Linked DNA regions of Homo sapiens. The protein of the gene in region 7 interacts with the protein of the main gene of each other region in a pairwise test. Each region holds a gene or a part of one and is shown on either strand. Other genes may lie near its edges. The genes, in order: DUSP10, STPG4, NDUFAB1, LARP4, ADGRF5, CAPN3 and FNDC3B.

Evidence for each region.
Region 1: the proteins of FNDC3B (region 7) and DUSP10 interact in binary tests that used the Homo sapiens proteins (3 or more experiments, as listed by UniProt).
Region 2: the proteins of FNDC3B (region 7) and STPG4 interact in binary tests that used the Homo sapiens proteins (3 or more experiments, as listed by UniProt).
Region 3: the proteins of FNDC3B (region 7) and NDUFAB1 interact in binary tests that used the Homo sapiens proteins (3 or more experiments, as listed by UniProt).
Region 4: the proteins of FNDC3B (region 7) and LARP4 interact in a two-hybrid assay, tested with the Homo sapiens proteins (one large-scale study listed by BioGRID).
Region 5: the proteins of FNDC3B (region 7) and ADGRF5 interact in binary tests that used the Homo sapiens proteins (3 or more experiments, as listed by UniProt).
Region 6: the proteins of FNDC3B (region 7) and CAPN3 interact in a two-hybrid assay, tested with the Homo sapiens proteins (one large-scale study listed by BioGRID and IntAct).

The regions. Positions count from the first base shown.
Region 1 is NC_000001.11:221,704,090-221,707,589, reverse strand, and holds part of DUSP10 (dual specificity protein phosphatase 10), read left to right. Parts: intron 1-1,123; coding exon 1,124-1,495; intron 1,496-3,500. UniProt on the Homo sapiens protein: Protein phosphatase involved in the inactivation of MAP kinases. Has a specificity for the MAPK11/MAPK12/MAPK13/MAPK14 subfamily. It preferably dephosphorylates p38.
Region 2 is NC_000002.12:47,127,809-47,131,308, reverse strand, and holds part of STPG4 (protein STPG4), read left to right. Parts: intron 1-1,048; coding exon 1,049-1,113; intron 1,114-1,313; coding exon 1,314-1,368; coding exon of another isoform or gene 1,369-1,383; exon of another isoform or gene 1,384-2,861; intron 2,862-3,500. UniProt on the Homo sapiens protein: Maternal factor that plays a role in epigenetic chromatin reprogramming during early development of the zygote.
Region 3 is NC_000016.10:23,580,514-23,583,415, reverse strand, and holds the end of NDUFAB1 (acyl carrier protein, mitochondrial precursor), read left to right. Parts: intron 1-1,040; coding exon 1,041-1,132; 3' UTR 1,133-1,140; intron 1,141-2,242; 3' UTR 2,243-2,402; downstream 2,403-2,902. UniProt on the Homo sapiens protein: Carrier of the growing fatty acid chain in fatty acid biosynthesis.
Region 4 is NC_000012.12:50,473,885-50,477,194, reverse strand, and holds part of LARP4 (la-related protein 4), read right to left. Parts: intron 3,197-3,310; coding exon 3,028-3,196; intron 1,670-3,027; coding exon 1,331-1,669; 3' UTR 1-1,330. UniProt on the Homo sapiens protein: RNA binding protein that binds to the poly-A tract of mRNA molecules. Associates with the 40S ribosomal subunit and with polysomes. Plays a role in the regulation of mRNA translation.
Region 5 is NC_000006.12:46,862,939-46,866,438, reverse strand, and holds part of ADGRF5 (adhesion G protein-coupled receptor F5 precursor), read left to right. Parts: intron 1-1,241; coding exon 1,242-1,397; intron 1,398-3,342; coding exon 3,343-3,500. UniProt on the Homo sapiens protein: Adhesion G protein-coupled receptor. In alveolar type II (ATII or AT2) cells, required for normal lung surfactant homeostasis.
Region 6 is NC_000015.10:42,362,501-42,366,000, reverse strand, and holds part of CAPN3 (calpain-3), read right to left. Parts: intron 1-3,500. UniProt on the Homo sapiens protein: Calcium-regulated non-lysosomal thiol-protease. Proteolytically cleaves CTBP1 at 'His-409'. Mediates, with UTP25, the proteasome-independent degradation of p53/TP53.
Region 7 is NC_000003.12:172,249,078-172,252,577, forward strand, and holds part of FNDC3B (fibronectin type III domain-containing protein 3B), read left to right. Parts: intron 1-2,182; coding exon 2,183-2,464; intron 2,465-3,500. UniProt on the Homo sapiens protein: May be a positive regulator of adipogenesis.

The DNA.
Region 1 (3,500 bases), on a different chromosome or scaffold from region 7:
TTCCCAAAAGTGAGATTGCACTTGTTCAGGGGAAGGTTTGCATTTTAAAAATGGAGAAATAAGCACAGTTTATAAGCTTTTTATACTAGACCCATAACTCGTGGGAGGCAGAGCAGAGCCGTAAGCTCAAAAGCATGCATTCACACATCCAAAAGAGGTTTCTTGATGGGTTTATGTGCCCACAAGCCTTGGAAAGTCGAGGAGTAAGCAACCGCGCTGCTCTCACATTCTGTTCTACTGAAAGTCAGGGTTGATAAATGTCAGGGCCCTACGTGGAGAATATCAAAAAAGATTATAAGAGCAGTCCTTCACACCCCACCCTGGCTTGTCTTTTCCAAGTACTTCTCTGCTGATTTCACCTGTGGGCAATCATATAAATAATATAAATTAAAATAGTGAATGCCTGCTGAGTTCTACTGTGTGCCAGGAGATGTGCTAAGTATTTTACACGTATTCATTTATCTCAGGCTCACAATTGCACTCAAAGGGAGACACCATCACCCTCAGTTTACAGATGGTGGAACTGAAGCACAGAGATAAATGAACTTAAGTAATAGTGTCAGGAAATGATGGTACCCAGATTATAATCAAGATAACCTGTCTCTTCCAATGTTCCTGCTTGTAACCACTCTGCTGTATTGGGAGCAAACTTGTCCCTCTGGGTGAGGTGAGCTATGAAGGGTGCAAGACATGCTCCTGTGGTGCTGAGATTCCACCCGAGGAGGTCATCTGTGCCTTTCTTGGCTCCCAAAGCACAGGGTTCTATGTAGGCCACTGAGCATATGGCTCTTTGAGGCAGGTCACATTTGCAGCTGAGGAAGATTGCCTGATGCCGCGTGGAACTCTTGCTAGGGGAACATGCCCTCATTTGTAGAAAGAGCACATTTCCAAAGTGTTCCATGCAGTGATACTCCCCGAAGCTTGTCTTGGGTCTCCAAATGGACTTTTAGTTTTTGTTTTGTTTTGTTTTATTTTTATTTTTATTTTTTTTGCTTAAATACATATTTATATATGTATTTAAAATATGCATGAGCTACAATGCAAACTCATTCTAATGGGGAGGTGGCATTCTCTGCCAGCTCTGAAATCTCAGTCACACTCACCTTCTGTGTTTGTGTTCTAGGTGGACTTAGTAGTTTTAAGCAGAACCATGAAAACCTCTGTGACAACTCCCTCCAGCTCCAAGAGTGCCGGGAGGTGGGGGGCGGCGCATCCGCGGCCTCGAGCTTGCTACCTCAGCCCATCCCCACCACCCCTGACATCGAGAACGCTGAGCTCACCCCCATCTTGCCCTTCCTGTTCCTTGGCAATGAGCAGGATGCTCAGGACCTGGACACCATGCAGCGGCTGAACATCGGCTACGTCATCAACGTCACCACTCATCTTCCCCTCTACCACTATGAGAAAGGCCTGTTCAACTACAAGCGGCTGCCAGCCACTGACAGCAACAAGCAGAACCTGCGGCAGTACTTTGAAGAGGCTTTTGAGTTCATTGGTAACTATCTCCCATAGGGAATTTTCATCCGCTGCCTTCCTTTTCCCTCCAGCTCTTGCTTTGATATCAAGTTCAAGGTTTATTCCTGTGTTGGAAAAGAAAAGCTGCCCTGGAGTTTTGGAGGGCTCTGCCACCTGAAACAGCCTAAGCATTCTCCTAAGTCATAGCCTGTCGAGTGTATCCAAGCCATCAGGATGGATATAAAAGGACAGTAATTGAATTTGTTGGGATCTGTTCAACTAGAAATCCTCATCCCTCAAGTTCTCAGTGAAATAGTGGTAGGGGTTAGCATTTATGTGCTCTGTAACCAGAAAAGTGGATGGAAAGTAAGGAATCGGAGGTCAGAGCTGGTGCTACTGCTACTTGATCTACTAGCGCCGTTGAGCACCTTGGAAGCAATATCTAGTGAATATGACACCCCTTCCAAACATACCTATGCCTTCCGGTCACCCTACTAAGCCTTATTCATCCAGCATAAGGGGAGATGGTACTAGGTTTCCTTTGACAGTCTGCCCCAAACTCATTGAACTAGGAAAGATCAGGTTGTGTAGACGGAGTAGTTCCCAAGGAGGAAGTTTTAGCAACAGCACGCTTTGATCCCCAGAAGGAAGCAACTATTAGCCTAATCCTAATCTTAATTTCTGCAACTTCTATAGCCCCAAACTGCTATAAGACTCAAAATATCGCCGGGCGCGGTGGCTCATGCCTGTAATCCCAGCACATTGGGAGGCCGAGGCGGGTGGATCACCTGAGGTCAGGAGTTTGAGACCAGCCTGACCAACATGGAGAAACTCCATCTCTACTAAAAAAATACAAAATTAGCCAGGCGTGGTGGTGCATGCCTGTAATCCCAGCTACTCAGGAGGCTGAGGCAGGAGAATCGCTTGAGCCTGGGAAGCGGAGGTTGCAGTGAGCTGAGATCACGCCACTGCACTCCAGCCTGGGCAACAACAGTGAAACTCTGTCTCAAAAAAAAAAAAAAACACTCAAAATATCATTTTGGGAGCACCTGCAATATAGCAAAACTCAACATTTATTTTTTTTTACGTAACTTCAACTTTTATTACCATAAAGGGGTGGCCTAGTACTTTTCCTAAATATTACAGCAGGTTGTTATTCCAGGAAGAATACAGTTAAGTGGAGTGGGGTGTTCCTTTGTCAGAGAAAGAAAAAAACAGCCTCAGGTTTAACAGCCAGTGGGGTCTGGTGGATTTGCTGTAGTGTTGACATCTCTGGTCATTTTGCCAAGCTGTTTTCCTTGCTAATTATGCCGTCAGCACAGGACCATGGAATATTGAGTCTGAAAGGAAATTCAGGGTGATCACTGAACTTAGAGAAGTAAAGTGACTTCTTCAAGGTCATAGGAATTCTAGTGTCCAAGAAGGGGCCAGAATCCAGGGTTTTTGACTCCCAAGCCTGAGGCCTTTTCACAACACACTAAGGCAATGTTTATGATGCCCTATTAAGTAATTCCCAACTGGCAACACTGAGGATGCAGAGATACTGCAGATTCTTTATTAATAAAATCTGAGCCAAACCTGGAGCGCTGAGGAAGAAAAATTTCTCAACAAGCATATGAGGAACTTCTGGTTGATACATGATGTGATGTTATGACTGAGATTCCATCTGACTTAACTCCAGTTGGAGGAAGTTAGGAAATTGTTTTCTATTTAATGAGTAGGGTAAGATATACTTGTTCTAAGAGGATTTCAACTAAAGCTCCTTCTCACATTCCTTATAGATTATTCAGGCTTACCTGCCTTTTTTTTTTTTTTTTTAAGGAAAACAAAACCAATAACAAATAGCATTCAGCCCGAAGAACAACTCCATATCACAACCTGCATAGGCACAATTTTATTTTCATTGTTATATTATTGGATAAACTGAAATCTTACAGTCTTGCTTTAGTAAAAACACAGCAGGTTTTATAAACATAATAGCTTTCACTGAGAGTGTAATATAAGCTGAGCAGCATCTAAGTTTAGTGTTTATACCAGTTTATTTA
Region 2 (3,500 bases), on a different chromosome or scaffold from region 7:
TTAAGACCAAGAAAATTAGCCAGGTATGGTGGTGCGCATCTGTGGTCCCAGCTATTTGGGAGACTGAGGTGGGAGGATCACTTGAGCCTGGGATGTCGAGGCTTCAGTGAGCTGTGATCACGCCACTGCACTCCACCGTGGGCAACAGAGTGAGACTTTGTCCCTAAATAAATAAATAAAAATAAGATGTGATCAGGTCAGGTACAGTGGCTCACACCTGTAATCCCAGCACTTTGGGAGGCTGAGGCAGGAGGATTGCTTGAGCCCAGGAGTTCAAGACCAGCCCGGGCAACATAGTGAGATCCTGTCTCTACAAAAAATAAAAAAGTAGCTGGGTGCAGTGGCACACACCTGAAGTCTCAGCTACTTGGGATGTGGAGGTGGGAGGAGCACTTGAGCCCAAGAGTTTGAAGCTGCAGTGAATTATGTTCATGCCATATCATTCTCCAGCCTGGATAACAGAGAACCTATCTCAAAAAAAGAAAAAAAAATGTGGCTGGGCACGGTAGTTCATGCCTGTAATCCCAGTACTTTGGGAGGCTGAGGCAGGTGGATCACTTGAGGCCAGGAGTTCAAGACCAGCCTGGCCAACATGGTGAAACCCTGTCTCTACTAAAAATACAAAAATTAGCTGGGCGTGGTGGTGTGCACCTCTAATCCCAGCTACTCGGGAGGGTGAGGCAGAGAATTGCTTGAACTGGGGAGGCGGAGGCTGCAGCGAGCGGAAATCACGCCACTGCACTCCAGCCTGGGCGACAGAGCGAGACTCCATCTCAAAAAAATAAAAAGAAAAACTGTGATCAATTTGACATTTTCCTATGCAGCATCTCAGGTATGCTGTCTATAAAATTCACCATGAAGACCGAATCTATGTTAAATGTTTTGAAGCTCCACCTTTGGAAATGTACATTTTCCTTTTCCACTATTAAAGTAAAGAAGGAATTATCCAATGTTGTATGGTCATAAAATAAAAGATTACGAATGACAGATAACGAAGTGAGTTTACAACCTCTATTAATCTATTGGTGTCCTTGTCCATTCTGTGCAGTCACTTCAGCTTTCTCCGGGGCAATACAACGTGCTTCCTGCACCAGTTCCCAAATATGCTTCCAGGTAATTATATACTTATTAAATAAGCTGCCTTTCTGTTTACATACCTACACGCCAATACTCCTGGCTTTTAAACCTCATTTATGCACCTCATATGCAAATTAACATTTTAAAATATTTAATGAAAGGTAGGGAATAAGTTAACAAAGATCTTTAAAAAATAGATTTAGAAAATCACTTTTCTTTTTTATTTTGAAATATAGGAGCTGTGTATTTCGCTCAACAGTTCAAAGATTCCCAACAACCTATTTTATTCCCGTAAGTATAATGTAGACAGTTAACTCATGATGAATTTGATGTTTAAAATACGCTGTGCTTTCTGGAGTGGAGCAAGGTGGCCACATAGAACCCTCCAGTGATCGTTCCCCCTAGCAGGAACACCATTATCCACACAATTATCCACACAAGAAAACACCTCTGTAAGAACCAAAAAGCAAGTGTGGGATCGCAATACCAGGTTTTAACATTGTATCAAGGAAAGAGGCACTGAAGAGGGTAGGGTAGAAAAGACAGTCTTGAATTACTGACACTACCCTCCCCCATCCCCTGGCAGCAGCCACGTGGCATGAAGAGAGAATCTGCCCTTGGGGAAGAGGGAATGCCGTGACGGGGGGACTTTGCACGGGAACACCGTGCTGCCTGTAACAGGGAAAGCAACACAGGACAGAATTCAGCTAGTGCCCATGGAGGGAGCATTTAGACCAGCACTAGCCAGCCAGGAATTGCCCATCCCAGCCGTTCGATACTGAGTTCCAGCTCTCCCTACCACTGTGGGCTGAAGTGCTCTGAGGTCCTAAATAAGCTTGAAAGGCAGTCTCGGCCACAAGGACTGCAGTTCCTGGGCAAGTTCAGGTGCTCTGCTGGGCTCAGAGGCAGTGGACTTAGGGTACACAAGACCTAGTGAGACACCAGCTGGGGCAGCCAAAGGAGTGCTTGTAGCAGCCATCCCCCAGCCCCAGGCAGCACAGCTTGCAGCTTCAAGAGAGAGGCCTTCCTTTTGCTTGAGAGGAGGAGAGGGGAGAGTAAAGAGGACTTGTCTTGAATCTGGATACCAGCTCAGCCACAGCAGAATAGGGCACCTCAGGCAGAGTCCTGAGGCCCCCATACCAGGCCCTAGCTCCCAGACAACATTTCTAGACACATCTCTGGCTGGAAGAGAATCCACTGCCTTAAAGAGAAGGACCCAGTTCTGGCAAGATTCATCACCTACTGACTAAAGAGCCCTTGGGCTTCGAATAAACACCAGCAGTGGCCAGACAACACTCACTGCAGGCCTTAGCCAGTGCTGTGCTGCTTCAGGTGTGATCCAGCACTTTCCCAGCTACAGTGGTCACAGAGAGAGACTCCTGCTTGAGGAAAGGAGAGGGAGGAGTAAAGGGGATTTTGTCTTGCAGCTTGGGTACCAGTTCGGCCACAGTGAAGTGGAGCACCAAGCAGGCTCCTGGGGTTCCCAATTCCAGGCATTGGCTCCTGGATGTCATTTCTGGACTCCCACTGGGCCAGAGGGGAGCCCACTGCCCTGAAGGGAGAGACCCAGGCCTGGCAGCCTTCCTCACAAGCTGACTGAAGAGCCTTGAGTGAACATTAGTGGTATCCAGGCAGTACTTGCTACAGGCCTGAGTGGCATAGAGAGATTCTTTCTGCTTGAGGAGAGGGGAGGGACGAGTGGAAAAACTTTGTCTTCTGGCTTGGGTGCCAGCTTAGCTGCAGTAGTATAGAGTACCCAATAAATTCCTAAGTTTCCTGACTCCAGGCCCTGGCTCCCAGATGGTATTTCTGATCTGCACTTGGCCCAGGGGGCAGCATGCTGCCTTGAAGGGAAGAGCCTTTGGGCCTTGAGTGAACATGGGCAGTAGCTAGGCGGTAGTTACTGCAGCCCTTGGGTGAGACCCAGTACCATGCTGGCTCTGACCCAGTGCAGTCCCAGGGATATTGGCCATAGAGGTGCTTGTGTCACCCGTCCCTCAGCTTTAGGCATCTCAGCACAAAGAGAGACTTCGTTTGTTTGGGGGAAGGGAAGGGAAGAGAACCAGAGTCTCTGCCTGGTAATCCAGGGAACTCGCTCAGATCTTATCCAAGACTACCAAGGCATTACCTCTACAAGTCTACCAGAATCACAGCAATTACTAGGCTTGGGGTGCCCTCTAATGCAGACACAGCTACGGTGACCAAAGACAGATTACAGCACTTAATTCCCTTTGAATACTTGGAGAGCCTTCCCAAGAAGGACAGGTACAAACAAGACCAGCTGCAAAGACTACAATAAACACCTAACTCTACAATGCCCAGACATCGGCAAACATATACAGGTATCAAGACCATCTAGTAAAACACAACCTCACCAATCGAATTAAATAAAGCACGAGTGATCAATCCCAGAGTGACACAGA
Region 3 (2,902 bases), on a different chromosome or scaffold from region 7:
AGGCGCTCCTCACTTCCCAGACTGGGCAGCCGGGCAGAGGCGCTCCCCACATCTCAGACGATGGGTGGCCGGGCAGAGACGCTCCTCACTTCCTAGACAGGATGGCGGCCGGGAAGGGGCGCTCCTCACTTCCCAGACTGGGCAGCCGGGCAGAGGGGCTCCTCACATCCCAGACGATGGGCGGCCAGGCAGAGGCTGCAATCTCGGCACTTTGGGAGGCCAAGGCAGGCAGCTGGGAGGTGGAGGTTGTAGCTAGCCGAGATCACGCCACTGCACTCCAGCCTGGGCAACATTGTGCACTGAGTGAACGAGACTCCATCTGCAATCCCGGCACCTCGGGAGGCCGAGGCTGGCAGATCACTCGCGGTTAGGAGCTGGAGACCAGCCCAGCCAACACAGCGAAACCCTGTCTCCACCAAAAAAATACGAAAACCAGTCAGGCGTGGCGGCGCGTGCCTGCAATCGCAGGCACTGGGCAGGCCGAGGCAGGAGAATCAGGCAGGGAGGTTGCAGTGAGCAGAGATGGCGGCAGTACAGTCCAGCTTCGGCTCGGCATCAGAGGGAGACCATGGAAAGAGAGGGAGAGGGAGAGGGAGAGGGAGACCGTGGGAAGAGGGAGAGGGAGAGGGAGACCTTGGGGAGAGGGAGAGGGAGAGGGAGACCGTGGGAAGAGGGAGAGGGAGAGGGAGACCGTGGGGAGAGGGAGAGGGAGCTGGGTTTCTTTTACACAATGGTGATGGTTGCACAATGTGAATATACTAAAAACTACCAAATTATATGGTATATACAAGGAGGAATTTTCTATTATGTGAATTCTATCTCAACAAACAAACAAACAAACAAACAAACATACCTCCAAAGCATCGTACCCAACCTGTATGCATACTGTCTAGAAGCTAACTGGCCCACAACCTATATGGGATTCAAGGTTGCTGAAAGTTTTGATATACTTGTAGCTGTTGTAGAAGGGTCAGGTGTGTTCAGTTCTAAAGGATTTTTTTTTTTTAACTCTCTCACATTGTTGTATATTTTTCTTTTAGGGTTTGAAATTCCTGATATAGATGCTGAAAAGTTAATGTGTCCACAAGAAATTGTAGATTACATTGCAGATAAGAAGGATGTATATGAATAAAGTATCAGGTAAATAGACTTAAAAAATGATGTTCACCCATAGATTTGTCTGTGGTTCTTCAATAAAGGAAACTTAAGAAGAAACAGAAAATGGAAATGCTTGACCAAGATTTTTCACTACTTATAAAATGCAAGCCCTTTCCTGTTGTCTGCCACTCAAAGGGGCCCAGCCCTGGTGGTGATCTTTGAGAGGTTGAGAACTGTCATTCCTGGATAGAACTCCCTTGATTGTCAGCTGTCCTCACAAAAGCAGAACATTGTACAAAGTACTGAACAGGGTAACCTGGAAACAGACCTCTGTCTCCCTCAATTACTCAGCCAAGGTAAGCCCAGCCTGCTGGGTAAGACACTGAAGTGACCTGGCTCTTAAGTAGGCAAGAGAGGCCTCATGTATAAGAGGATGGACTTTGGAGTCAGAGACACCCAAGTTTATTCTCAGCTTTGCCACACACTATAAGCCTGGTGGTCTCAGGCAGGCTGCTTAGCTCTGTAAGCCTCAGTTTCCTCATATGTAATATGGTGGTAATGATAGGACCTACCTGGGGCTTTTGTGAAAGCAAAATTGAAGAGAGTATATATATCACTTGATATAATGATGTAAAGAAGCCTCTCAGTAAATAGTAGCTTTTGTTACTTGGGACCTAGAATAATCAAATAAGACTTTTTGAATTAAAACATTGTATTAGTGTTTTTAGTCTTTAGCTTTTAGTGACCCTGCATTTTTTTTTTTTTTTTTTTAAAGATGGAACCTTGCTCTGTTGCCCAGGCTGGAGTGTAGTGGCACAATCTCGGCTCACTGCAACCTCCGCCTCCTGGGTTCAAGCAATTCTCCGGCCTCAGCCTCCTGAGTAACTGGGATTACAGGCGTGCACCTCCACGCCCAGCTAATTTTTATATTTTTAGTAGAGATGGGGTTTCACCATGTTGGCCAGGCTGGTCTCGAACTCCTGACCTCAGGTGATCCGCCCAGCTTGGCCTCCCAAAGTGCTGAGATTACGGGCATGAGCCACTGCACTCAGCCAGAGGCTGCATTTTTAGCACCTGAAAGATGTCACTTATCATTAGTAAGAATACATCAAAAATAACATTGAACTTATTTTGTCTTTTCCAGACCCTTTGGCTTTGCTGAGAGAGGACTCAGATGATAGTGACGAATGTCTGGCAGTGAGGACACATTTTGGCATTCTTGCTGACTCTGACAGAGTGATTCTGATGGACTTGTATTTAAATTGTATGTGTTTTACTCTTTGAAAATAAATCTATAAAACCAACATTTTCCCCCATCTTCAGTTTTTCAATGATGTCTATAAAGTGCTTTTTTATGTTTGTATACTGACATTGCTTAATATTTTTAAAGGTCTGATTTGTCATTTGTATTCATGCATGTCAAAAACAATGGCTTCCCCAGCCATGTACTTGAAGTAAGGCTGTCTCCCCACCTTCGTATCAGGAGTGAATATATTCATGGAAATGGACTTTTTGCTTCAAAAAAAACTTTGTTTTGGTTTCCATTAGCTTATTATCAGATGTGTCAGCTGATATCAGCAGGTGGGACTAGTTTTTCATCACTGTCCTAAAGATCCCTTTTAATACAGTTTAACAGTTTTGGAGAATGGGAGGCTCTCTTTCCTCCTGGAAGGTCAGTTTGACATTGCCACACATCAAACCACAGTTTGATTTGTCACACATCATTATTGGTTCTGCCCCTTTTACTCTTAGCACTGTGTTGGTTCCTTGGGGTTGATGTAAATAACATGTATGCATTGCTTAG
Region 4 (3,310 bases), on a different chromosome or scaffold from region 7:
TTTCTTCAACCATCTTTCTCATCTTTACTAAAAAATCTCATGACTTGCTGGTACTGTTTCAGTGAATTCCAAACTGTATTTTGTTGGGTGTGGGGGGAGAAGAGGAGGGAAGGAAGGTAATACACTGTAAACAGAAATAAGTCCCCCCTCCCAAATTAAGCCTTTAAAAAAAATTTTTTTACTTCTACATTATTTAACACTTAAGAGTCAGTTACTATGCTTAATCTTTAACACTAACGACAAATAAATTACTGTACGGTCAGTCTGCCCTACCATCTTGGGAGCTAAAATTCTAAATGTGTGAACAGAAGAGTTAATACTTCAATGTTCAATTCTGAAATTTAGAACAATTTATATGATTTGACTAGACTGCTCAAAGCAATTACAAACACACAATTGAGTAGGTAGTTGGTTATTTTGCTTTTCTGTGGGTGGGCAGTCAAAGAACAGAGAGTAACAAATGGAGTAAGAAAAAAAATTTTGTTTCTCATTTTGGGGGTATTCGGGGGAATCACAGGGAAGTTTAAACCTCTGAAATCCATTTGACCTATGCACTGAGGTCCAAGATGAAATTTTCAATTTCTTGAATAACCCCCTTTCCTTGAGTATCAAACTGATTGGTAGTCACATCTCTAAGTACAATCAGAGTTTTACAACTTGTTAAATGAAATATTAGTAAGGTCAAAAAGACAGACTAAATTTCAAACTAGAAAAAAAAATCTACTCAAGTATTACATTCAGTTTTCAAATCATTTACTAACATGACAACAGATTTGGCTTCAATCGCTCTTGTACACACTCACACCCACAACAGGCACCCCAGCCACTGATCCGCTTTGCAATACAAGGCCATATAGTCAGAGATGGCATTCTTCAAGCCAAACTTTAAATAGATTAAAAAAAGTAATTTCTAATTTTACAGAAATGCTTCTTCAAAAAATATTTTCTCTCATTCCCTCATCTCCTATACTGAAGGATGTATGTTTCTTTTTTTTCTTCCAAGCTAAATCTGAACCCTCAAAATTGATTCCTGGCAGCAAATCTCTGCAAATTAAAACCAAAAACAAAAATAGAAAAATTATACTTTTTATATATGTGTGTGTATATATATATATATATTTATATTGATTGGAATCCTCCAGCATTTAAAAACCACATTAGAGATGAATTTTGGGATCCTATCACTCACAACTCCAAAATCCATAATGAAATGGACGTACTTTCTCTTGTTTCCTTCCTGGCTACCCCCTCCCCTCCAAAACAGTTCAATATAGCCACAGTTCAAGTTTAATGGGAAGAGAGTGAAGTTTTTGAATAGTTTTGTTGTTTTTTACTTTGGTGATCTGGGTGGCACATATTGCTCTTTGCCATTACGTCGAGTCACTCCCTGAGGTATAGCCCTATGGCTAAACTGGCGTCTCTGTTCCCTGATTTTTCCTGCTGCTCCCCTGGGGATTATATTGCCTCGGAAGCCAGAATAATCCTTACTAGCCCTTGCTTCTGGCTTCTCATGTGGTTTCTCAACGGAGTTCTCAGGAGCTCCATTGTCTTCATTTTTGGTGGGAGACACCACATTGGAGCGAAGTTCCCGTAGTGGCTGCACAAGAACTGAAGATGGCTCTTTAGGGGGCTTCTGGCACACTTCAGCATAACTTAACTTTCGGGGTTCCTTTGAAGTGATGATAAAAAAAAACATTTATGGTACACATTCTTTAAATTATAAAGTATAAAAATGATTGTGTTAACCATAAGAAAACCACAGATTATCTTCCAGAAAAGGGCAACAAGCACTCTCATATATACTGCTTAGAGTACACTGGTACAATCTTTATTTATTATACAATAATTTCACGTAAGGAATTTAACTGAAGGATGTTCATGTCAGCGTTGTTTATAATGATGGGAGCGACCTAAATGCCTAACAAAGGACAGATTAGATGAATAATGGTATAGCCATATGATGAAATAAAATGGTTCTTTCTGCTCCTGTTTCCTTGCTACAAAGAACCCCAAGAAAGATGACAAAAGAATCCCAGCAGAGCAGTTAGAATCCAATGGTATAAAAAGACTCATTAAAAGTCTTAATTACCTCAACTGAAAAAGGTGGAATAGAGGTATTGTGAGAACAGAATAAAACATGTAAAGTCTTCAGCACTAGTCCTAATAATATATAGTAAGCATTCAAATGGTAGCTATTATTTTAGTATTATTACTATCATTGAATGAGAAGATAGTCTTCTAAATCTATTTTTAAAAGTGCTGTACTAAAATGCTAGGGATTATAGGTAAATTTTGTGTTTTGTTCTGCTTTTCTGTATTTTCCCAATTATATAACTATAAAACAATTCTGGAACTTGATAAATGGGAGTGGCCTCTCAATGGCCACTTATAGACTTGTTAAGTATCACATATACAACCAAAAGAATATCAAGAGGCACAAGGCCTCTTTATGTTAGCCCCAAAATGATAAATTCATCCTAACGTGGGTAAGGAAGAAGCTTCACTTAACCATATGAACAGAAAAAAAGCAATCAAAAGAAACAGAATGGGCCAGGCGCGGTGGCTCACGCATGTAATCCCAGCACTTTGGGAGGCCGAGGCGGGTGGATCACGAGGTCAGGAGATTGAGACCATCCTGGCTAACACAGTGAAACCCCGTCTCTACTAAAAATACAAAAAATTAGCCAGGCATAGTGGTGGGCACCTGTAGTCCCAGCTACCCGGGAGGCTGAGGCAGGAGAATGGCGTGAACCCGGGAGGCGGAGCTTGCAGTGACGCGAGATCGTGCCACTGCACTCCAGCCTGGGCGACAGAGTGAAGACTCAGTCTCCAAAACAAAACAAAAAAAAGCCTAAAACTTTCCATCTCTTTGCAGTGACCCTAACACTCCTTAAGCTTCTTTCTGATAGTCAGCCCCAACTTGGGCTACTTCCAAATGACTCTGTTCTAACAAAGTGTTACGTGAAAAAAAAAAAAAAATCTAATCTATTGTATTTTTTTTAACATAAACTAAAATCTTCAAGTTACCTGTAGAGCCACAGCTGTAGCTGCATTTATGTTATTATTACATGGTGAAGCAGTACTTGCCCTCGATGGCTTTGTAGTACTTGGAGGAGAAACTGGTATAGTTGTCTGATTGAGACCATCCTTCTGAACAGAGGAATCTTCTATTAGATCCTTTTCTTGCTGAGTTGTGCTAAGGAAAAAAGAGCTTGCAATTAGACTCAGAATAGCATATAGGAACAGTTGAGCAACTAATCAGAAGAAAACGTAATTTTTTTTTTTGAGACGGAGTCTCACTCTGTCACCC
Region 5 (3,500 bases), on a different chromosome or scaffold from region 7:
ACCTTGGGTTTTAAGGCTCCAGAGGGCATAAAAGTAAAGACTGTGCTCCCTAAACACACAATGGGTCACTCACACCCCATTGACACAATGTTAAGACCTTCAAAAAGTGGCACATTCAGTAAGAGACTAAGCTAGGAAAACAAAATTCATCTGCCAGAGTTGAGACCTTGGCCTCATCTCTGGGTGGACAAAAGGTTTCCCCCAAAAAATATAGTTGTCCTGCCATCACTCAGGTTTGGGCTTTGAATTTATATTTCCTTTGTGGTTCAGGAGTGCCAACCTAAGTTTAAAGTTGTCCATTGGTAGCACCCTATGTCAACCAGCAAAAAAAGAAAAAAAAATCAAAGTCTCTCTGGTAGATGGTGCCCTTAATCCAGATCCCTAGGGATTCCCAGAGATTAAGGTCAACCAGCATGATCTCACAACCCAAAAATCTCAAAACACAGACAACTTCATGAGGGATTTACAAGCTCATTCATTTTTTCAATAACTATTCTGGAGGGCTTACTCAACGCAAGACACCATAGTAGGCAATGAAAGGGAGAAAAAAGAAGTGGGGCACATATTTTAATATCTAGAAGGGCCCATGCCCTGAAAGGCAATGCATATAATATAAAATATCCAAATAGAATAATACAGACTAAAAAAACAGTAGAAGTTCAGAAAAGTGGGGACTCAATAAACACTGTAGTCTTTAAAGAAGGCTGCATGGCAGAGGGATATAATCAATCTGGATTTTGACATATGCAGCATTTCAACATTCTGTGTTTAATATGCATACATTCAGTGCTTTCTATGCACCAGATACTGAGCTGAGCACCAGGAGATGGAAAGATAAATAAGACAAGGTACTTTCTCTCCAGGAGCGTATGGTCTAGTAGAGAAGACAAACTCATGAATAGGTGACTATATACCAATATGGTAAAGGCAGAATAGGATAAATGCTCAGAGCATGATGAAATTTAGATAGGGAGAAGGATTTGTGGAATGCTGAAAAGGCATTCTGAATGTCAAAAATGTGTGACTTGGAGTCATGAATGGTAGAGGAGAAGTTTTGACTAGCACACATGCAAATGTGGGCTTACATACTTCAAAACCCAGAGGTAAAACCTGTTAAAAATGAATGTGGCACATTCCTCGGGAAAGCTTGGACAGGTTTATTCATATTAGGTTATCTTAACACAATTTGTGCATTAGAGACTCATGTTGTGACTTAATTCTTTCAATAATTCTGTCTTCAGCAAAAGAAGTTAACAAAAAACAAGTGTGCTACAAACACAATTTCAATGCAAGCTCAGTTTCCTGGTGTTCAAAAACTGTTGATGTGTGTTGTCACTTTACCAATGCTGCTAATAATTCAGTCTGGAGCCCATCTATGAAGCTGAATCTGGTTCCTGGTAAGAACGTTTTAAATTACTTTAAGATGTTATAGTCAGGGCAGGGACTTATTTATTTATTCACTCCCTCATTCATCCCCATTCAATAAACATATGTTAAATACCCTCACTGTGGTAGGCCCTGGGCTCACCATAGTGGTATTTAAAAGAAAAGAAATAAGCCATGTCCCCTGGCCTCAAGCCTAGGGAAGAAATCTATGTGATAAAAAAATGTTATTGGCCGGGTGCGGTGGCTCACGCCTATAATCCCAGCACTTTGGGAGGCCGAGGTGGGCAGATCACGAGGTCAGGAGATCAAGACCATCCTGGCTAACACGGTGAAACCTCGTCTCTACTAAAACTACAAAAAATTAGCCAGGCATGGGAGCATGCACCTGCGGTCCCAGCTGCTCGGGAGGCTGAGGCGGAAGAATCGCTTGAACCCAGGAGGCGGAGGTTGCAGTGAGCCAAGATCGTGCCACTGCACTCCAGGCTGGGCGACAGAGAGATTCCGTCTCAAAAAAAAAAAAAAAAAATTATTACATGTAATACAGTAAGAGCTAAATAGAAATGTTGTGGGTGGCTTAGCTCTGCTAAAGGAGTTTACCAGGTGATTAGAAGTGGACAGTATCAATGTGGTTGAGGTCCTTTGGGGTTTCAGCAAATGAAAGGTGTCCACACTGCACTGTTTTTCTGAGACAAGGCTACATGAAAACAATTAATCTCGAGAATAGGCAGCTGCCTTTCCCATCCTTTGCCACCACTGAGTCAATTTGCCATCACATAATATCTTTGAGGTGAAAGTTCATGTTTTACAGAGTCATTGCTATGCTAGCCCATGTTGGGGAGCTCCCCTCAGCAGCAGGGAAGGATAGATCATCCTAATACAAGGTCATCTTAAGGGAGAATCTTATGTTAAGACAAGGGGTAAATGATGACCCTGGGCTTCTACCATAAGCAACTCCTCATCCTCTTAAATCTTCCCAGCAACAGGACTTGTGATAGACAAAGGATCGTTATCACCAAGATTGTTTGAGTTTACTGAATAGTTTGTGGTCATTCTCACATGTTGGCAACTAGCCCCTGGGCACCAAAACAGGAAACAATTTAGAGTCACTTTCACCTGACCTTTCCACGCACAAGTACAACCCCTCCAGGGTGCAGCAAAGGTCACCTCTTCTTTTCCCCATCACTCATCTTAGCCAACACATTTTATTCACTTATCTTTGTTCTTCTCCTCTTTCTTTATACCAAATATGGTTTCGCTTCTTTTTCCTAGTAGAACATTACTTATTTAAGATTTATATACAGTGGTTAAGATCTTAATGTTAAAGAAAAGTGTTGGTGAGGGAGGGGTCTCATCAGAGTCAGGGTCCACTGGACATGAGAGATTCCACAGCAAGTGTCATTTCCCCATCCTTGCCTGGTCATGAGAAGAGGTGAAATAGAATCACCTCTAAGGGAAACCAGAAGGAACAAATGCTTAAACATATTGATTAGAATATTCAGGTCATGGGTACCTAGAGTTCCTACTAGCAATTATGTCTTTGGATTATGGCAGTGATTCTCAACCTTGACAGCACACTGGAATCACCAGGGAGGCTTAAAAACCTGCTGATGCCTAAATCCCGCTCTGACGATTCCGATTTACTTAGCCCAGACACTGGTGTTTTCAAAAGCTTCCCAGATGATTCTAATATGTCACAGTTGAGAATCTCCAGATGAAGGTATAAAATTCTGTTAGGAAAAGGAAGTTCCGATTACAGAAGTCAGGTTCATGTGGAAAGCAGAGAGGGGCTTTGGAAAATCAAGGGCAAAATTAAGAAATTGGGTAGTTCTGAAAAGGTGACGGAAAGTAAAGGTAAATGTGAATTCAAACATCAAAATTCTACCTTGGCCTGACCGTATTTCTACTATATTGTCTCTTCCTTGCAATTATCCCTTTATTTCAATGTTTCCAACACAGGGGAAAACATCACATGCCAGGATCCCGTAATAGGTGTCGGAGAGCCGGGGAAAGTCATCCAGAAGCTATGCCGGTTCTCAAACGTTCCCAGCAGCCCTGAGAGTCCCATTGGCGGGACCATCACTTACAAATGTGTAGGCTCCCAGTGGGAGGAGAAG
Region 6 (3,500 bases), on a different chromosome or scaffold from region 7:
GGAAAATAAGGTTCATGATGAATTATAGCTTGGGAAACTTATCTAAACTCTATTCTTAAAATAAGCCTAATTCAAGAGATTTCTGTGTACCAGAATACAAGGAATAAAGTCATCTATTCAGAGGACTAAGAGGCTGCTGCCGTCTGTCTGGGAAAGAGGTGTCCACAGGTCCAGGTGTTGGTGGAGGGCACTAGCTGGCCCCAGGAGTGAAGAAGAGCAGGGCTAAGGGTGAGGTTGGACTACTGGGCAAAGCACAGATGGATATGGGTATGATAGTAATACCTGGCAGGAAGAAAGGCAAACACCAGAGAAATGTGGCTGAAGTAGAGACCCAGCTCTGAGCTGGGAACGGGTGGGGCCCTGTAATGACAGAGAGGTGGGGACAGGAGTTGAGGGAAAGAGGTGAGGGGAAAAGGTGAGGGGAAAAGACCCATAGCTGGAGCTCCAGCCACCATCAGCAAGTGAGAAGGCACTGGATCTGGAGTTAAGTGGGAAGGTGGCAAGCTCCCCCAACTCCCAACAGCAAATAGAGGAGAGAGCTAAGCAGAAGGTTGCGATGAGAAACTGCAAGGCCCAGCTATCAGCCCAAGGAGCTTGGAGGACAGTGGAGGAAGGGAGAACGGATTTCCTAGGGAAGGAGCTGGAGGTTAAGCTGGAGGTGGCTGTATATCAATGATGCAGTTTTGACTCCGATTCAGGGCTGTGAACTGGAGGCCCAACCAGAAATAACCTCTCCTAGCAGAGCCAAGAAACACTGAGACCATGCTGATGGAGGGAAGTTTAACCTGAAGTCTGGGTTAATCCAGCTGCTAAATACGGTGGGCCCTTCCTTCTCCAAGCTCTAGGTTAGGGTGGGTCTGGAATAACATGGAATTTACAGAAAGGTGACTCCACCTAGCACCAGAGACAGGAGGAGCCCAGGAACCTCATTGTTGTCAGGGTCCACTGCTGGAAGCCCTGGCCAGCTGAGCTGATGGTGCAGGGCAGGGCCCTGTGGAGCAATTCTGGGATCCCATGTTACCAAGGGTGAGGAGAGGACCAGATACCTTTTCATCACAAGGTCCTGCAACTGGCCCTTCACTTCTCATCCCTCCAAAAGAAGCAGGGATCTAGGTTGCCCCTGCTTTGGGAATTGCAGGAGATGAGAGAGAAGAAGCTTAAGAACTCTCCACCTGGCATGACTGAGGCACATGCAGATGGGAAAAACGAAGCCCTTGCTCAGCAAGTTGGTCTCAGTGAGCCTTTAAAGCCAATCACTGGGCAAGGTGCCAAGTTTCCCAGCCAAGTGTGATCCCTCTTTTGTAGTCTCCTTCCTGGCTCTATGATACACTCAGATTTTCACAACCAAATGTACATTTTATATTTGATGTAGATAACTAGAATTGCCCTAAAGGACAAGCAGTCCCCTGCCCATGAGGGGAGCATTCACACACACATCCTCATGCTGAGATGGATGGATGCATTTAGACCAGGCATGAAGTACTCAAACACATTGCTGTAGCTAATATCTTGACTGGTCATAGGCACAAATTAAGCTGGAAAAATGTTTATGATGTTGCCACTTTTAAGAGACTGCATAGCTGCTTGTAGGCAGTAATAAGAGTAGTCTATGTTTACTGAGCACTCAACCATGTGCTGGTCTTAAGCCTTTAGCCTGCATTAACTCATTTAATCCTCAATTAATTAAGAGATGGGTTCTTCAATTATGGTTTTTCTCCATTTTTCACATGGAGAACCTGTGGCAAAATGAGGGTAAGTATGTGACCAAGATTACCTAAGTGTTAGGTAGCAGGCCCAGACTTGAACTTAGGTTATCTGACCTCAGAGCCTGGGCTCTTAGCCACTGTGCCATTCCATCTCCAACTTATAGAGGCTGATGCTTTCAGGGGCAACCCCTGGGGTGTCACTCAATGCCTGTTGTGTCTTGAGGAGGCCCAATAAATGACACCTTACTTCCATGCATGAGTTTTGAGCCAATAAAGGAATACTACAAAAGTGCAGGGCAGGTGGGAGTCCAAAATCCCACATTTATTGTTTAATAAAAATGGATATTGACATCTAAATCTCAGAATTAGATAGATTTGGGGCTCTAGAGCCAGATTGTGTGGGTTTAAATCCCAGCTCCAACCCTCACTAACTGGGAGATCTGGCGCGAGTTATTTAATCCCTCTGAGACTCAGTTCCCTCCTTTGTAAAGTGGGACAATAATGGTACTTCCTCACAGGATTGTTGTGAAGATTAAATGAATTAACATATGGAAAGCATTTAGTTACTGGCATGTGGTGAGTTCTCACTCAAGATTAGCGATTATCTTTACTGTTAACCACACATTACCAGGTGGCCCAGGGACTCCTGCATGACTCCCCATGGGGACTTGCCTCCAGAAAACTTACTGCAAGGAGGGCAGAGAGCAGAAGCCATGCTTCTTGCAGGCAGCTTGCTTCCCAGAGAAAGACAGAAGCCAAGAACTGGGCTTTACAGGTCAAGTTCTCTTTACAAACCCACCATGGGAAGGAGACAGGCCAGGAGTGTGGTGCAATTGAACCTTCCACCCCATGGAATGAAACACGACCTGCCCTCCCATCCCCAACCTATCCCTAGTATATTGGGCACCAGCATCCCAGAAGCCCTGTTCTAGAACCCATTCTATTCTGCCCTGGGATCTGTCATCAAGAAAACTTGCCTTAACAGTTGAGAAGTGTTGAATAATTTGTTTGCTTTCTGATCCTAGAAATAGATCATATAAGGAAAGTCTAGAGGAACCAGATTGTTTGCCCTGGAAACTCAATGCATGATGTTCCCGAGTAGAGGAAGAAAGTCTGTGAGGTAGCACTGGTGAGTAAGAGAAGAGATTACAGGTGAGCTGGGAACAGTCGGCCAGAGCCTGTTTTCTTTTAAGAGGGAAAGGCTGAAAGTGCAGCATGCTATTTTAACTAGAATTATAGTTGGCCAGGAATAATTCTCCCTTTATCATTATTATCATTATCACTGTAATTATAATAAATAATACTTGATGGTCGAAAAAAAATTCAGATTGGTTTCCAAAGGTTCTGTGCCTTAGACAGTAAAAGCAGGAAGGCCTTTACTCACCTGTGTGGTGCTTCTCCTGATAGGACACAGTCTTTTCAGACTGCATAGGGCTGGCAAAGGTCACTACATCTGAAGAAGTTTATGGAGAACTGATGTCTCCAAGAAGTGCTTTACAGTCAGAAAGTTCTGGAGTCATTTCAGTTTTTCAGTTCCAAGTCAACTTGTGTGGCTGTAGATAAGTCATTTGCCCTTTCTGGGCCTTAATCACCTATAAAGCAAGGACACTGGAGCACCTCTCCAAGAATCATTCCAACTCTGACCATCTCTAATTTTATATTTCTCATTTATGCTAGTGAACCCAATGGGCAGTGTTCCTGTGATCTTAACCCCAGGGGAACATGTGGGCATTTTATCCAAGAGTGGCCTTTGTTATCTGGTCCTTTAGTGACTCAAACAGTGGAAAATCCAGG
Region 7 (3,500 bases):
AAAAACTGAAAAAATTTAGTTAGCTGTAATTTTTTTAATGTATTCAGTGCTTTGACTCAACATGCATTAAATAATTGAGTGTTTCTTAGAGCTTTCTGGCTGTATCTGAGCTCTGATGACATGAAAGGCCTTGGTGACTGACTCATTGCTTGCTGGTATATGTCTGACTTGCCTTATTTTAGCAGTCTGTTAGTAGGATGCCACATGGTTACTGTTTTGTAAATGCTGTCCTTTGCAATTTTAGGCAAGACAACAGTATGATTTAAATCGTCATTAGAGTTAAGCAAAATTGTAGTCTCTTCATTTTATGGTGTATTTGGGTCTAATTCCATTAAAATAACACAGAGCAATAATGTATGCAAATAAAAATGCCTTCATTGATTTCAAATTAAAGCAGTAAAACAAAATCCCTTCCCTTTATAAATAAGCCATTGATATATTCTTTTACCTTAGTTCTTAGTGTGCATACCTAAAAGCAATTTAAATATTAATTTTCTAAACTATAAGAGTTTTAAAAGTTTTCAACATGTCTGAAAAGATTATTACTGCCCATAGTGAATATGTTAAATCTCATGTGTAATACATCGTGGTGTTTAGAACATTTACTATCCTTCTGGTATATTTTGACATAGTTTCTTTGGATACACACTCTCTGAATAGGATTATATTTGTTTTGACACGTTCTCTAGTGCAAACTGGTTCTCTCATGAAGATTTGTTTTTTAACAAAACAACTCTTGTTTATGCTTTAGCTATGTTAACAGTAAGAAACAGTGGAGCTTTACTGTTGAGTAATTGAGACAGCAGTTTTGTTAAATTATGCAGGGTAACCATACATTTCTGTTGTGCCTGTGACAGTCCTAGTGTAGGTCTCTTGCCTTGAAGAAATTATTGATATTCCTTCCTTTTCGCTCTCAGAAGTGTTCAGATTTGGATGGTAATTTATATTGTCACTCCATAGAAGAGGTGACCCTTTTTTCTTATAAAGATGTAAGGACCCAATCTTTATGTTACGCATTGTCATTTTTACTGATACCTAAAAATAATTTTGAACTGATTTAAAAATTTAAATTTAACATAAAGTTTTCCCCTTGAGATCATAAGATTGCTTGCAGGCTTCTATTTTCTTTTGAGCCACTTTAAAATGTGCATAGTAAAGTCAGGTGACATTCTACATTTGTCTTGCCTTCTATTACTCCAAAAGAGAAGTTTGAGACCACAGCTTATTATGTTTGGCACCAGATTTCAGAGATGGCTTTTCTTTATCCTTATACTTCCTCCTTGAACATTTCCCCTGATTCTGTGAGCTTTGATTATTTTAAATGGAAATATGTCATCTCATTATCTTAGTTAAATTTGTTCAAATGTTGGCTCTTTTGTATGCCACAGAAAACTTTGACTGCAATATACTTCCCAGTAGAAATACTATTCTGTCTACAGGGATGAGTAGACTTTTAAAGTAGCTTGATTCTAAGTACATGTTTAATAGGGGTATTTTATTTGTTCTGACTTTTTCATGTATTGCAACTACTGAAAACATATTGAAAGGTAAAAATCAAACTCAGTTATAAATGCAACTAGAATATGAGCTCTTTAGGGATAACAACCTTGTCTTCAGTATTCTCTGTAATATAGGAATTTTTCTGAACACACAGTGTAGTTTTTAATGATTGATTATTCCTTGATTGGTTAGAAACAAATGGGAATGCTTTAAATGTATATCATGTATATGGCATTTTCTTTTTTCTTTTTCTTTTTGAGACAGAGTCTTGCTCTGTCGCTCAGGCTGGAGTGCAGTGATGCAATCTCAGTTCACTGCAACCTCCGCCTCCAGGGTTCAAGCGATTCTCCTGCCTCAGCCTCCTGGATAGCTGGGATTATAGGCGCCTACCACCACGCCTGGCTAATTTTTTGTATTTTTAGTAGGGATGGGGTTTCACCATGTTGCCCAGGCTAGTTTCGAACTCCCAAGCTCAGACAGTCCGCCCACCTCGGCCTCCCAAAGCGTGAGCCACTGTGCCCAGCAGTATTTTCTTAAAAAATATTTATTAGACTCTATTTAGTAATACTTTAGACTTCCTTTATACTTTAGACTTCTTCAGGAGCCAGATCATTTGACCATTTAATAATTTATTATTGAAAATGTAAACTGAGTTTGGGTTTATCATAATCATCCATTTTAGAAATTATACCATTTTATGGAATGTCAACCTACATCACCCGAGAAGACCAGTACAGCAAGCCTCCGCACAAAAAACTGAAAGACCGCCAGATCGATCGCCAGAACCGCCTCAACAGCCCTCCTTCTTCTATCTACAAAAGCAGCTGCACAACAGTATACAATGGCTATGGGAAGGGCCATAGTGGTGGAAGTGGCGGAGGCGGCAGCGGTAGTGGTCCCGGAATTAAGAAAACAGAGCGACGAGCAAGAAGCAGCCCAAAGTCGAATGATTCAGACTTGCAAGGTAATACTCAAGATGTTTGCCATAGAGTGAATTATCAAGACAGAGACATCTCAAATGATGTTTCCACATCTTTTACATGAGAATATTATTTCATGGTGGTTGGTTGTTCTGCTAAGAATATTTGAGTAGACCTTCTTTGATCTATTTCTTGGTAAGGAAATAATATTGCATTGTTTATTTTTTATTAATACTTCATGGCAGAAATACTACATTTTGGTCACAGATGCCATGCAACTTTGCACTTAATAACAAATATTTGAAAATCTTTTCATGTTAGCCTACTTCTGTTGTTTCACTCTCTGAATAGACAGATGTGGAAGAAATCCAAAGATAATTTTTCTAAAAGTGTAGGCTAGTTTAAATCTCAAAATAATTATACCTCATAAACCATACGTAATTACTTCCTTTCTGTAATGAAATCTATCATTGAATCACAGAAATATGTTTCTGTTTAGTTTTGGCATCAGTTATTGTCTCATACCACCTTTTGCCTGTGAATTAAGTGTTCAGAAACTAAGAATAAGATGGAAGAATGAGGGCCACCACATATAGGTAGAGAAACATCAACTCAGAATGGCATCTGTCTTTTTGTAGATGAATCTCTTGGGTAGATCAGTTCATTTGGAGGAAGGTTTATGTGTTTAAATGAAGTTTTGGAGGTAGTTTAGAGAGAACCTATTTTGATGCCACATAAGGAAAAACAGTGGCTATTTCTATAGGCATAGGGAAGAATGACTTAAGTGAGGCAAAAAAGGTAGCATTTGGATAAGGTAGGTGAGTTTATAGATATAAATGACTGGAAAACAAAGACTTGAACAACTTTTAAACATAAGATCAATTATTTCAAGTAGATTCCCTTTTTCATTCACAATCACATTCTCACAGACACAGTCCCAGTTTCTACCTGACTGAGATGCAGTAAGGAATCTGATTATAACACTCATTGATTATAACACTCATTGAATTTATGGATTCCTTACTGCATCTCATTCAGGTAGAAAAAGGGACTGTGTCTGTGAGAATGTGATTGTGAATG